4 linked regions of the Homo sapiens genome follow. The protein of the gene in region 1 purifies or fractionates together with the protein of each later gene. This does not show direct contact. Each region holds a gene or a part of one and is shown in the gene's direction. Other genes may lie near its edges.

Region 1 (3,500 bases):
CCCTTCCCTTTGCCCGTTAGAAGCCTAATCTAAAGCCCATTAGTTTTTATGTAACCAGAACTCTTGAGTCTTTTAAATTTTATGGTGGTTAAATTGATAAAATGAAATTTTTAAATATGAGAGACAATAATTAATATACTTCGAACATAAATAGTGGCCATATATGATTACATATGGATATCAGATAAAAGCAATATGACATAATTTTTAGTTTTTTACAGTGCTTTTACTCATGACTCTAATAAGAGAACTTGTTGAAGAAGTATTTTGCCTAGAGAAGTAATGTCTCCTATCTCATCGTTTACCACATGATAATAACTGTTATTCCCTGGAGGTTATATTGTGCTAGATATATTCTCTCACATCTTCAAACAACTTTATGAGGTTGTATTATTCCTGTTTTATTATGAGGAAGGTGAGAGTAACTTGTTGCAGTTTCACGGCCAATAAGTAACAGAATTAAGCTTCAAACCCAGGGCACTTTAGCACCAAGGCCCATATACTACCCTACCATGCTTTTAATTCAGTAGTTGAATTCCTCAAATTTACCAGTCAACAGAGTTTATGTTGTGGCACTGTCTTCCTCTCAGGTAATAAAGTAAACCTTTTAAGTACTGTAGCTAAGTAAGTGGCTTAATGTATGGCTGGTATGTGATTTTTAGCACTCCCCTGAACCTTGGGTCCCCTCTACTTAATTTGGTAATAAGTAAAACACAGGAATTTTCTCTTTAAATTCATGAACAAGTTCTAGGTCCTAAAGCTACTTACCTCAAGGCATAAGTTGACTCTCAGAGTGAAGCCCTCATTCATTCCTCATTAGATAGGAGATTAGCTCTGTGTCTCTCTAAAGTCTGTGTGAATTTGAGCATAACTGGGATGCAGAAACCCCCATTCTAGAGGATCAGAACTATACACAAGATGTAAAAAGTATGGAGTGTTTGGCTGTAATTTATGGATTCCTCATACTTAGGGAAGAATATAATGTTTCATATGAGAATAAATAGAGATAATGTGTATTTAGCCAAAAGTTTTGGCAGTCTGATAAATTATTCCTGATCAACTAGAATTAGAACTCATTTCTGCAAGGTATAGTATTTAATGTAGTATGTCATGATTTGTCCCTCTCTCCCTTTAAAAAAAAAAAAAAACAAAACAAAACGTTGTCAGGAAGTTAAACTAACATAAATCTGCCAGAAATCTGTTTCTTTGCAAGGCACTGGCTCTGATGTTTAGGAAGTGCAATTAAAATATATTGTGGTTAATGTGTTTTATTTTTTATACAGTATTTCTGCTACTTTTTCTCAATTTAAATGTTTAAAGAGATGATTTGTTTTAGAACTTGTTACTGAAAAAAGCTAAAGAAGTACAAATGACTTAATTGCTTTCATTATTATTTTAGTCTAAGCCAGAAATCCAGTACGCACCACATTTGGAGCAGGAGCCTACAAATTTGAGAGAATCATCTCTAAGCAAAATGTCCTGTAAGTTTTATTTTAAGTAGCTTAGATAAAAACATTAGCAGTCAAATCTGGTTGTAGTAGAGTTGGTCATGTTTGTTTTTACACTGATGGAACATAAACAGATAATTTCTAAAACAGTGGTTCTCAAACTTTCATGTGTATTACAGTTTGGAGAGCTTGTTCAAACACAGATTGCTGGGCCCTACCTCCAGAGTTTCTAATTTACTAGGTCTGGGAGAAGATCTGAGAATTTGTATTTCTCACAAGTTCCAGATTTTGCTGATGCTGCTGGCCTGGGGGCCACACTTTGAAAATCACTATTCTAAAAACATTTAGTTTGCTTCAAAGGATGTTTTGAGCATGAACTAATCAAATATTCTGGTATTTCCCAATAAATTGATCAAATAATGAAAAATGCCAAAAGTGAGAGTCCCCATTCTATTTTTATTTCCATGTTAGAAGTGAATTTTGACTTATAAGAACATAAAACATCAAGCTAAAGCAGAACTCACCTTGTGAAATTTCCTCATACCTTATTTTAGATACTGATTTAATTAGCCTTCTAATTATTTTGGTGGGTGGGAGTGGGTAGATAATGATAGCACATAACATAAGACCATCTTTAACTTTAATTAGATTAGAATAAACCAAATCCAAGCTCACATGTAATTAAGCAGAAAGCATCAATGTCAATAAGAATTTGAAAATAAAACAGGAAACTCATAATGTGATAGAATATTCATTTGGTTTTGATGTGCTAGAGAAACTGGTACACATTATAAAATGTATCAGATGACACAAACAAAAACAATTGGATATCTGTAAAGTGTATATATCTAGAAGTAGTCATGTGAGACTAGCTTTTGGAATATAGGATATAATAAACTCATACTTACTATTTCAGCAGATCTGCAAATGAGAAATTCACAAGCGCACAGGAATTTTCTTGAAGATGGAGAAAGTGATGGCTTTTTAAGATGCCTCTCTCTGTATGTATTCCTCTTTATTATGTGTATAACAGATAAAATCTGGCTTGTATCAGAGAGATATATTACTTTTTATTATTTTAAAATTAGCACCTCAAAAGTAAACCTTTTTACTTGTTCCTTTCCAAAGTTGTACATTAGATATTTTAGTTTGTTTAAAAGGTTGTAGGCATACTACTTGAATAAAACCCAGGCAGGTAGTTTTTTTCACAGTACAAGAGCATTTTTCTTGTTAGAATCTCTTGATTTATGTTGAATGTGCTTCTCCACACATTTAAATTAAGCTTTAATTTAACATATGTCTGAGGCCGGGCACAGTGGCTCATGCCTGTAATCCCAGCACTTTAGGAGGCCAAGGCGGGTGGATCGCCTGAGGTCAGGAGTTCGAGACCAGCCTGGCCAACATGGCGACACCCCATCTCTACTGAAAATACAAAAATTAGCCGGGCGTGGTGGTGCATGCCTGTAATCCCAGCTACTTAGGAGGATGAGGCAGGAGAATCGTTTGAACCTGGAAGGCAGAGGTTGCAGTGAGCTGAGATCACGCCACAGCACTCCAGCCTAGGTAACAGAGTGAGACTCTGTCTCAAAAAATAAAATAAATAAAATAAGTATGTTTGAATGGTTTAGGGATCAGATTTTTGTTTTTGTTTTTATCTGCATGGCCAGATTTGACGCTAGAAGAGCTGGATAAAGACTCTAGATTAAGAAGGGCTTTGTATTCTATACTAAGGAATATCAGCTCTATGCCAAGAGTTTTTAAGGGTAATGGTAAAGTGGGCAAGTGAGAGTAGGGGTACCATATGCCCTCCTAGGAAAAAATATCAAGCCTTATGAGGGTGAGAGGCAGGTTTTATGAAAGTGTGCATGTTTCCTCTTCTCCAAGGAGTTCAGATATGGTCCCTCCCCCACATTTTACTCCTCCCCACCCCCAACAAAAAAAGGAAAAAGAGAAAGATAGTGGGCCATACCACTTATTGACTATCACCTACTCGGTGTCAGATACCAGGTCAAGCATTTCAGTGAGTGGTAAACAAGTTTCTGCTTTATAGTG
Region 2 (3,717 bases), about 150 Mb from region 1:
GGATCCCGAGGCCCAGCCCCAGGCTCCCGGCCCAGGAGCCACGACCTCTGCCTCATCCACCCAGCCCAACCAGGGGAGGGAAGGAAGGGGCAGCAGTCTGGGGTGAAGGGGAAAGGCAAGTGCCTGGAGGGTTTCAATGAAGTTTTAAATGGTTCCTTGATCCCCTCAGTGCAGTTGAGCACGGACTCAGCGCTTAGAACCAAGTGTTGATGAAGAAGGGAAACTGGACTCGGGTAGGGTCTAAAGGTCAGGGAGATGCTGGGGCCCAGCTGAAGACCCCTCTCCACCTCCTCCAGCCCTCACCCTTCTCTCCACTTGGGAAATGTCTTGGGCTCTCCTAGTTGTTTCGTGTTTTTGAACCTGCCTCCCCAACTAGCATGGCACTTGCTAACTTATCGAGCCCTAGGAGTCCTAGGAGCCAACTTCTATTGTCCCCTAAGAAGTCCTATAGCTGGAGAACCTCCTGACCCTGAGGGATGACTGGAGCTGGAAGAGAGCTAACATTTGTCCAGTTCTTTCTGTGTGCAACACACTCATTTAACTCCAATGACAATCTCATGTAATACAGAAGGAAATGGTTGCTCAGAGCAGTCAAGTAGCTTTGCCTCAGGTACTTGGGTAGTGAGTGGTAGGGCCGCGATTTGGGTCCTGATCTATTTGCCGGTAGGTCTGCTCTCTCACAGCAGGTCTAGGTGGCAGTCAGGGGTCTCTGGTATGTAAGTGTGGCAGGATTACTGGCCATAGATCCAGTTCCACAACAGGGACCTCTCGGAGACTCAGCTTGTTCCCTCCTTCCTTTCCACCCACCTAGACCACCACAAAATTCCCTCCCTGCTTCCTGACCCCCATACACTGGCTTGGGTAGCTGGGTTCCCCTTGCACAGGTATGCAGGCATGCATGCATGTGTACACATGTGTTTGTTCACACTGAGTTTTACGTGTCGGTGCACACACACCCCTATCAAAACCTCTGTGCCTTTGAAGTCGCGGTTGTTTTTCCCACCTTCAGAAATAGCTGCAGAGGAAAGTGGGAAGTAGCCAAATGTAAATAGGCTTGCTGTGTTCCTGCTCAGGGAACGGGACCCTGCCTCCAGCTGCTCCCCTCCCAAGCCCTAGCATCCTGGAAGCAGGATGAGGGAGGTGAAGAGCCCCTCTGGCCCGCTGAGAGGCACCTGCCTGGATGGTGGCAGGAGACATAGCTCCAAGCTTTCTGCAGCTGCCTGGTAAGGAGTCATCACCCCAGGGGACGAGAACAGGCACAGGGCCTGCAGCTGCAGCATTCAGTGCATCCCAGACCCTCCAGAGGCCCAGGGCAGGGTCAGATCAGACAGACCTGGCAGCACAGATGTGAAGTGTAAACGGCACACAGCCCCCTGGACTTGGGTTGATTCTTGTATCTTGCTGCTCACCAGCTATGTGACTTGAGCCAAGTTCTTTAACCTCTTCAGGACCTCAGTCTCTTAATCTGCAAACTGGAGGTATTAGTGCTTATCTCATGTACCTGTTATGAGAGTCATATGAAAAAAGACATTCAGAGTCTTCAAAGAGTCCTGAGCAATGGTAGGTGCTCAGTAAGTGTTTGTGCATTTCCTTGACACTTGTAGCTAAAAACTTACCTGGAATCAGACTTCCACTCAGGAGTCAGACCAGGCTCAAGAAGGCAACACAGTCTGGCCCCTTTTTGTTTCCATCTTTGGTTCTAGGCCAAGGCTGGACTTGCCTCATGGCCCTGGCATCTGAGAGAGAAACTGGATAGGTTCCTCATGCTCAGGATGGAGGAAACAGCAGTGGCTTGCATTGTTGATTGCAGGGGTGATGTCTAATCTCCTGAAGAAAGGAACTCTGGAGTCACAGAGATTGATTCATACAATCAACACACACTGGGCACCCATCCCGTACTACAGGCACAAGAGGCAAGACAGGTCTCTAGTTAGAGACGTTTTCCCACGGTGTGGTCAGAACTGTGACAGTAGGAAGCATGAGTACTGCAAGAGCATAAAGCCAGCCCCTTAGTCAGCCAGGTGGGGAGGTTTTGGAGAAGACTTCTGCAGGTGGTGACTGAACTTAAAGTTGAGCGTTGAAGAACAAGTAGGAGTTGTCTGGAAGACAATGAGGAGGAGACATCAGAAGGGGTGGCATGTCACGGTAACCTCAACCCAAAAGGTTTGTGTGCAGCGGGTAAGTGGGGTGGTGACAAGAGAAGCCAGGTGAAGGGGCCGGGCCAGGTCACAGAAGGTCTTACCTGCACAGCTGAGGAGCTCAGACCCAGGCTTCTTAACTCCACTGCCTCCTCCTGGGCAACACTGCCAGGCTGTTGGGAAAGGAGAAACACTCCTGCCTCCAGGGTGGGGAAGTTGGCAAACACCAAAGCAATATCCCCACCCAGAAGATCCTGGGCAGCAGAACACCCCAGCCTGCCTGGATGTGTCAGGTCTGCTGCCTTTCACCTCTAGGGTCCTGGGGAGCCCATCCCAGATTTTAGAAGCTGTACTTATTTCCACCAACCCTCACCCACCTCCCACCTACACTGCCAGAGGAACTTCTGGAAACTTATCATTTTATCTTCCATTTACCCAGTGAGCCAAGGAGGCTGGGAGGAAAGAGGTAAGAAAGGTTAGAGAACCTACCTCACATCTCTCTGGGCTCAGAAGGACTCTGAAGATAACAATAATTTCAGCCCATCCACTCTCCTTCCCTCCCAAACACACATGTGCATGTACACACACACATACACACACATACACCTTCCTCTCCTTCACTGAAGACTCACAGTCACTCACTCTGTGAGCAGGTCATAGAAAAGGACACTAAAGCCTTAAGGACAGGCCTGGCCATTACCTCTGCAGCTCCTTTGGCTTGTTGAGTCAAAAAACATGGGAGGGGCCAGGCACGGTGACTCACACCTGTAATCCCAGCATTTTGGGAGACCGAGGTGAGCAGATCACTTGAGGTCAGGAGTTCGAGACCAGCCTGGCCAACATGGAGAAACCCCCATCTCTACTAAAAATACAAAAATTAGCCAGGAGTGGTGGCAGGTGCCTGTAATCCCAGCTACTCAGGTGGCTGAGCCAGGAGAATCGCTTGAATCCAGGAGGCGGAGGATGCAGTCAGCTGAGTGCACCGCTGCACTCCAGCCTGGGTGACAGAATGAGACTCTGTCTCAAACAAACAAACACGGGAGGAGGGGTAGATACTGCTTCTCTGCAACCTCCTTAACTCTGCATCCTCTTCTTCCAGGGCTGCCCCTGATGGGGCCTGGCAATGACTGAGCAGGCCCAGCCCCAGAGGACAAGGAAGAGAAGGCATATTGAGGAGGGCAAGAAGTGACGCCCGGTGTAGAATGACTGCCCTGGGAGGGTGGTTCCTTGGGCCCTGGCAGGGTTGCTGACCCTTACCCTGCAAAACACAAAGAGCAGGACTCCAGACTCTTCTTGTGAATGGTCCCCTGCCCTGCAGCTCCACCATGAGGCTTCTCGTGGCCCCACTCTTGCTAGCTTGGGTGGCTGGTGCCACTGCCGCTGTGCCCGTGGTACCCTGGCATGTTCCCTGCCCCCCTCAGTGTGCCTGCCAGATCCGGCCCTGGTATACGCCCCGCTCGTCCTACCGCGAGGCTACCACTGTGGACTGCAATGACCTATTCCTGACGGCAGTCCCCCCGGCACTCCCCGCAGGCACACAGACCCTGCTCCTGCAGAGCAACAGCATTGTCCGTGTGGA
Region 3 (3,717 bases), on another chromosome or scaffold:
GTACAAGACCAGCCTGGCCAACATGGTGAAACCCCGTCTCTACTAAAAATACAAAAATTAGCTGGGCGTGGTGGTATGCGCCTGTAGTCCCAGCTACTCGGGAGGCTGAGGCAGGAGAATCGCTTGAACCCAGGAGGCGGAGGTTGCAGTGAGCCAAGATCACGCCACTGCACTCCAGCCTGGTGACAGAGTGAGTCTTCGTCTCAAGAAAAAAAAAAAGAGACAACAGTATTTAAGCTCCATGAAGGCAATTTGTGTACTGTTTTATCTTCTGTGCCTATGGATGATGGCTGATACTAGCTGTTCAATAAATATTAGTTGGTTGAATGATTTCATTTACAATTTTGGCTTAGTACCTTCCAGTTTTTTCCTACACATCTTTTTTTCTGTACAGTTGAGATTGTACTATATATAAACTGTACATGACATGTTTTTCTGTATATCATGTCACTGTGATGGTAGAAACTCTTCATACATAATCTTAATGTCTATTAATTTGTTTCCACAGGATAACATCTTTTGCTACAACAGCTTTCAGACTTTTTGATGGCAGCCCTACAATAGGAAATACATTACATGTAGCACATGTACATACATGTGTATTTGCTTATTGGCTGTCTATCCTCAGAAAGTTAGGGATGTTTTATTCATGGCTGTAACCCCAGTGCCTAGATATTGCCTGGCACATAGTAAATACCAGGGTTCAATGAGGAATAAAAAAAAAAAAATGAAAGGCAAGAATGCATACAGGACAGTAATTGCAGTTTCCTTGTGTGATACACTATGTTTTCTTTGGTATTCTAATTCAGTTTTCTTTTTTTTTTTTTGAGATGGAGTTTTCCTATTGCTGCCCAGGCTGGAGTGCAGTGGTACAGTCTTGGCTCACTGCAACCTCCACCTCCCGAGTTCAAGCGATTCTCCTGCCTCAGTCTCCCAAGTAGCTGGGATTACAGGTGTTCACCACTACACCTGGCTCATTTTGTATTTTTAGTAGAGATGAGGTTTCACCATGTTGGTCAGGCTGGTCTCAAATTCCTGACCTCAAGTGATCCACCCGCCTCAGCCTCCCAAAGTGCTGGGATTACAGGCGTGACCTACCATGCCCGGCCTCTATTTCAGTTTTCTATTGCAATCCAGAAACTTTTTCTGTATAAATTGATTGTGACTCACTCAATTGGTTTCATGCCTACTTGTGATTCGTGACTTGAAAAACATTGATTTAGTTTGCTGCTAAGTTTTCACAATTTAAATAAAATTCTTTCTTTTGATTATATTTCAGATTTTGTCCTTAGGAAACTCTTGATACAAATTGCCATAATACATTCTAACAGGTTCTGTTATTTTCCTACCAGTAGTGTACCAAAGTGCTGTCAGTGTATTTTAAAAAATGCTTCCTCCACTTTTCCAAAAGCTTATTTACATACAGGGAAAGTTTCAGGGCTATATGCTTCAGTTTAATGGGGGAGAATGAGGTAGATCAGTACCATAATCCTTACCTTCCCTTTTTCCATGTCTTGGACTCTATATCAAAAGCCCATGAGATTGTAATCACAGTGCCTTCCTTGTGTTTTCAGATTCAGGAATTGTAGGGCCTCAACCTATAGACTTTGTCCCAAATGCTCTCCGACATGCAGTAGATGGGAGACAAGAGGAGATTCCTGTGGTCATCGCTGCATCTGAAGACAGGCTTGGGGGGGCCATTGCAGCTATAAACAGCATTCAGCACAACACTCGCTCCAATGTGATTTTCTACATTGTTACTCTCAACAATACAGCAGACCATCTCCGGTGAGCTCTGCTTATGTGATTCTGCTTCTAGAGGATGATTTAGAGCAGGCCAGCTGCCAATCCAGGATCTGTTTTTCTGTGGTTTGTATGTTGTTTTATACAATTGAAATTGTACCAGTGATAAACTGTACAAATGACATATTTTTTTTAGGACTGTATTATGAGCATATCCCCATAATAGGAGAAGTGATACAAGGAGCTCATGCCAGGAAGTAAGTCAGCTGTCACTCTGAACTGTTAACCCCACCTGATGGTGTTTTGATAATAATACTTTCTCAGTGAAGGGAGCAGTAAATGTTGATTTACAAGTCACAAGTTCCTTATTTCATGGACATGCTCGGAGCAGTTCTGGTCTAGAGTGGGAAGGGACTTAGCAACAATGGCAAGGTAGTGTTGTGATGCTGATCACAGATCCTGATCCAAATCCTGGCCCAGAGTGATCTGGGGAAACTTGGATAGTCTAATCCATTTTGAAAATGAATAAGACTTATAAAACTTACTCCAAATTTGTTGGTCTAACAAATTAACCAGTTGTCAAATTTCTGAAACATTTTGGTCCTTGTGGCCCTCTGCATGGTTCATATTTAGTTTTTAAAGCTGTAAATTCTGAACGCATTTAAAATACAGAAACAGAAGCTGTATAAAAATAGACTACAGAAATAACACTAAGTAGCCACAAAACACTGATTTGAAACTGACCTAGAAAAAATGTGCAGTACTCCTTTAGCAAACAGTTTTTTCTTACAGGTAGTGCCTCAGACTTGAGTGGTGGAATTAGGGTCACCACAGTTAAGAGTTGGATAGTCCAGGTGGTGATGAAATGTTCTTAATTCTATAGTTTTTCTAGAGTAGTTTTAGTGTTAGAAGATAATTACCATACAATCTTAATTCAGGGAGGGACTTTGGTGGGAATTACCCTCACTTCAGACGAGGAAACCAAAGCTCAGAGATAAAAGGAGCTTGAAAACACCTATTTGGTCCATAGGGTTTCTTTTGCATTATTCCCTCATTGGTTTGGAGACATTATTTGAAACTAAAATGTAGTGTTTTATCTTCATCAGGTCCTGGCTCAACAGTGATTCCCTGAAAAGCATCAGATACAAAATTGTCAATTTTGACCCTAAACTTTTGGAAGGAAAAGTAAAGGAGGATCCTGACCAGGGGGAATCCATGAAACCTGTGAGTTCCATGCATCCTTCTTTGCACTTGGCAGTATTAGGAAATAATGGAATACCTGGGTATCTGTGGGTATAGTGCAAGTAGTTTCCTGGGGACCAAGCCTGGGTGGTTCTAAGAGTCCTTTCTTCTCCTGAATGGGTACTGAAAGCATCCTAGGAGTTTCTGTGTAAATAAAAGCACAGCTAGTGCGGTATCCTATGCCAATTATTCTTTCCTTTTCCAGTTAACCTTTGCAAGGTTCTACTTGCCAATTCTGGTTCCCAGCGCAAAGAAGGCCATATACATGGATGATGATGTAATTGTGCAAGGTATCAAAAATGTCACCATGAGTGCTGTTCTCCACCCAGATTGGGTACAATTGCTAAATAAAACAATGGGCTACAGTGGGCTGTAGTGGTTTATTTATGGTCTTCTATAAAAGGTCACCATAGGGAGAAGTGGGAGTAACAGGGAACTCTCAAGGCAACGGAAATGTAAATCTTAACATCTTGTCTATTTCAGGTGATATTCTTGCCCTTTACAATACAGCACTGAAGCCAGGACATGCAGCTGCATTTTCAGAAGATTGTGATTCAGCCTCTACTAAAGTTGTCATCCGTGGAGCAGGAAACCAGGTAAATTGCTTACCAAACACCCCTCTTCCTACAATATTGTTTAATGGGAAGAGGTTGCAAATTCAGGGAACTCTTTTGCTGCAATTTACACTCCCCAATCATTTCATCCCAAAACTCAAGCCTGCTTTTCTGTAGA
Region 4 (3,717 bases), on another chromosome or scaffold:
TTTTGATGTATATATTGGCAGAAGAGTCATTGAATTGGATGAACTGAAAACAGCTTTGTAACACTGCTTAGTAATCAATAGTAATCAATACAAACAATACTTTTCTAGCCTATCCAAATTCTACCCCTCTTTCAAATTCTTTCTTGAGTCTTTCTTCATGAAAACTTTCCAGTAATTTCTGCATTCATTGGGCTAATTGTACACACCGCTCATTCAACAGATAATCACATGACATTTCTTATAGTTTGGAGCTATATGGTGATTACACTTCTCACTGTTGTTGTCCCCCGCAGCTAGTCTCTTTCAAGGTCAGAGACTATGTTCAATGGCTGTGTAGCCCCCACAGTGCTCTCTACCATGCCTTACATAGAGTAGATGGCCAATAAGTGTTGCTGAATTAAAACATTCTAGATGTACTTAAAATTTAACAATCTTGACCCACAGAATCATAGGATGGTAGATCTGGAAAGGGCTTTGGAGACTATCTCCCTCCTTGTGTGGGGTGAGGAAACCAGGCCCACAGAAGTGAGTTTCCTTTATCAAGATGAGTTGACCAGCCAACGTCTCTATACTGACTCAGGGCTTTTTCTTCTAATTTCGACATTTTATCTCATTGTTCATTGTTACCCTTTGGCTATGGAATCCTGAAGATATTCAAACACACATGCTTTAGTAAAGTGTACATAGTACCAAATACTAGGCCAGCATATTCCAGATTCTTGCGAGCTAGTGTGTGTGTTACCCAGTGGCATCTAGGCTCTTTGGGTCTCCCAAGCTTATGCTCCTAGAAAATGAAGGCATCTTTGCAGAGAACTGATGGTATTGCAGCATGGCATTTCTGGTAGCCTTGCAGGAACAGGGAAGCCTATCAGGAGCTTTGTGAGTTAACAAGGGATCATCACTGCTGTGGCCACTCCTGGTCCCTGCTGCCAAGATGAGGATGGCTTGGAGAAAAATCAAGCAATGTGTGCTCTGTACATTGTTACTTAGTGACTTATCCTGATGAAAGGGGCAGTGTGGGCTGGGCGCAGTGGCTCATGCCTGTAATCCCAGCACTTTGGGATGCTGAGGCAGGTGGATCACTTGAGGTCAGGAGTTCGAGACCAGCCGGGCCAACATGGTGAAACCCTGTCTCTACTAAAAGTACAAAAAGTCAGCTGGGCTTGGTGGTGCACACCTGTATTCCCAGCTACTTGGGAGGCTGAGGCAGGAGAATCACTTGAACTTGGGAGGCGGAGGTTGCAGTGAGCCGAGATTGTGCCATTGCACTCCAGCCTGGGCAACAAAACAAGAACAAAACTCCATCTAAATAAATAAATAAATAAATAAAATAGAAAAAAGAAAGAGGAGGTGTGTCTGGCAGACAGGTGAAATAGAAAAAGCAGACCTGATAATATGAACTTACTAGGTTTGAGGAGACACAAGACTATGTAGACCAAAGCCAAACTTTGACATACCAGAATGTTAGTGCCCACAGTGACAAGGTCCAGGTTCCTGAAGAGCATCCTTATGTGAGATTGGGAAGAGGAAAAAGTGACTATATTGTGCTCTGTAACCAAGAGTGCATTCTCTGGGGAATGACTCTATGGAGGTCAGTCTTGGCTTTATCTAGCTTCGGATTCTGTCTGTGACTTGACTAACCAAATGAGTTTTAGAAAGGCATAGTTGCCTCTTTGGTATCAATCTGTTACAGTACTTAGCTAAACTTAACTTCCTGATGAAGTATGTTCCTTGAGAGAGAGTTCTTCCCAAGAGTTCCTTGGGTTGTATCTCCTGAACAGTTTGCTTTCTTTTTCTTTTCTTTTTCTTTTTTTTTCTTTGAGACGGAGTTTCATTCTTGTTGCCCAGGCTGGAGTGCAATGGCACAATCTCGGCTCACTGCAACCTCCGCCTCCCGGGTTCAAGCGATTCTCCTGCCTCAGCCTCCTGAGTAGCTGGGATTACAGGCATGCGCCACCACGCCTTGCTAATTTTGTATTTTTTAGTAGAGACAGAGTTTCTCCGTGTTGGCCAGGCTGGTCTCGAACTCCTGACTTCAGGTGATCCGCCCGCCTCTGCCTCCCAAAGTGCTGGGATTACAGGCGTGAGCTACTGCACCTGGCGGCAGTTTGCTTTCTTTTAATAATTCTTTTTTTTCCTCTTTTTTTTTTTTTTTTTGAGATAGGGTCTCCCTCTCTTGCCTAGGCTGGAGTGCAGTGGTGTGATCTTGGCTCACTGCATCCTCTGCCTCCTGGGCTTAAACAGTCCTCCCACCTCAGCCTCCCAAGTATCTGGGACTACAGGAGTGAGCCACTATGCCTGACTAAGTTTTGTATTTTTTGTAGAGACAGGATCTCACCATCTTGCCCAGGCTGGTCTTGAACTCCTGAGCTCAAGTGATCCAACAGCCTTGGCCTCCCAAAGTGCTGGGATTACAGGTGTAAGCCACCATGCCTGGCTCCTTTAATAATTCTTTATGGTTCTGTCATTCAGAATTTCTCTACATTTTCAGCCTCTATTTCCTTTTGTGGTAATGAGTTTCACATTTTCAGTCTCCACTGAATGCCTCTCCCATCTTTTGAGGATGAGTCTTAATTAAATATAGTGATCCTCTGTTTTGGGAAAAGCAAGCCCAGAGAACAGGGATGTTCCCCAACATGCTGACATCAGTTGAGATGTTATTGAGGGAAAGAAGAGACTCCTAAATCTTTCTCCTCAGAGATGCTGGTGCTGGTATTGTGCTTAAGAACAAAGGAGGTACCTTAGGCTATTTGCAGTAGCAAGAAGCTAGCTAATTCAGGGTAATTAATTAGTGGGATGTTTCTGGAATGGAGTGGGGAAGACAGGGCCCCTATGATGATGATTAGATAAGGCCAGTTAATGGAGAGCCTTGGAATACTGACCTGTGGAGTTTGGGGCATAATATAATAGGCAGCAGTGAATGGTTCTAAGTTCTCGAGCAGGGGTATATTGTAACTGAAATTTGAACTTTGTTATTATAACTGAAATTTGGAAACTACTGAGCGGGTTTACCTGGATAGAGATTTTGATGAGAGGATGGCTTCTCACTTCAGAATTGAAAGTGTCCCTGTTTGGTTAATTTTCTTTATTGCTACTGGAGCAAAAGAGGGTTGTGCATTTTTCTCTGACCTTCACATAGAAGTAAATCTGGAGGCTGATTGTAAATTATGTTTTTAGTGTTAAGGGAAACTTCCCCTCTCAGCAGACTCTGAGGGTCATCAGAAGAATCTTGAAACAGTCTTAATGGGTGGTTCTACATGTTTATTGTCTTCTAGAGGTAGTGTCTTAGTCTGTTCTGGCTGCTGTAAGAAACTACCATCGACTGGGTGGCTTATAAACAACAGAAATTTGTGTCTCATAGTTCTGGAGGCTGGCAAGTACAAGATCAAGATGCCTGCAGGTTTGGTGACTGATGAAGGCCTGCTTTCTGGTTCATAGATGGCTGTCTTCTCTCCCTTGCCAAAGGGGCAAGGGAGCTTGCCAGGATTTCTTTTATAAGGATGCTAATCCCATTCATGAGGGTGGAGCCTTAGGTGACCTAATCACCCCCCAAAGGCCCCACCTCCAAAATCCATCACATTGGATGTTAAGATTTCAACATATGAATTTTGCAGGGATACAGACATTCAGTAAGTAGCAGGTAGGTAGTAAGAGGACAGATGGCCATCCATATCAGGGAGGTATTATAGCAAAGGCTTATTTCTCCCATGTGTGACC

What was found. The genes of interacting proteins can lie anywhere in the genome.
Region 2: the proteins of TMEM59 (region 1) and LRRN2 purify together in Homo sapiens (co-immunoprecipitation; one large-scale study listed by IntAct). This does not show direct contact.
Region 3: the proteins of TMEM59 (region 1) and GLT8D1 purify together in Homo sapiens (co-immunoprecipitation; 2 studies listed by BioGRID and IntAct, with this or other methods). This does not show direct contact.
Region 4: the proteins of TMEM59 (region 1) and ZDHHC9 purify together in Homo sapiens (co-immunoprecipitation; 2 studies listed by BioGRID and IntAct, with this or other methods). This does not show direct contact.

The regions. Positions count from the first base shown.
Region 1 is NC_000001.11:54,039,705-54,043,204, reverse strand, and holds part of TMEM59 (transmembrane protein 59 isoform 2 precursor), read left to right. Parts: intron 1-1,399; coding exon 1,400-1,481; intron 1,482-2,364; coding exon of another isoform or gene 2,365-2,367; coding exon 2,368-2,449; intron 2,450-3,500.
Region 2 is NC_000001.11:204,619,739-204,623,455, reverse strand, and holds part of LRRN2 (leucine-rich repeat neuronal protein 2 precursor), read left to right. Parts: intron 1-1,333; exon of another isoform or gene 1,334-1,501; intron 1,502-1,616; exon of another isoform or gene 1,617-2,099; intron 2,100-2,242; exon of another isoform or gene 2,243-3,237; 5' UTR 3,238-3,463; coding exon 3,464-3,717.
Region 3 is NC_000003.12:52,695,792-52,699,508, reverse strand, and holds part of GLT8D1 (glycosyltransferase 8 domain-containing protein 1), read left to right. Parts: intron 1-1,574; coding exon 1,575-1,788; intron 1,789-2,849; coding exon 2,850-2,967; intron 2,968-3,190; coding exon 3,191-3,275; intron 3,276-3,468; coding exon 3,469-3,581; intron 3,582-3,717.
Region 4 is NC_000023.11:129,833,887-129,837,603, reverse strand, and holds part of ZDHHC9 (palmitoyltransferase ZDHHC9), read left to right. Parts: intron 1-3,717. UniProt on the Homo sapiens protein: Palmitoyltransferase that catalyzes the addition of palmitate onto various protein substrates, such as ADRB2, GSDMD, HRAS, NRAS and CGAS. The ZDHHC9-GOLGA7 complex is a palmitoyltransferase specific for HRAS and NRAS.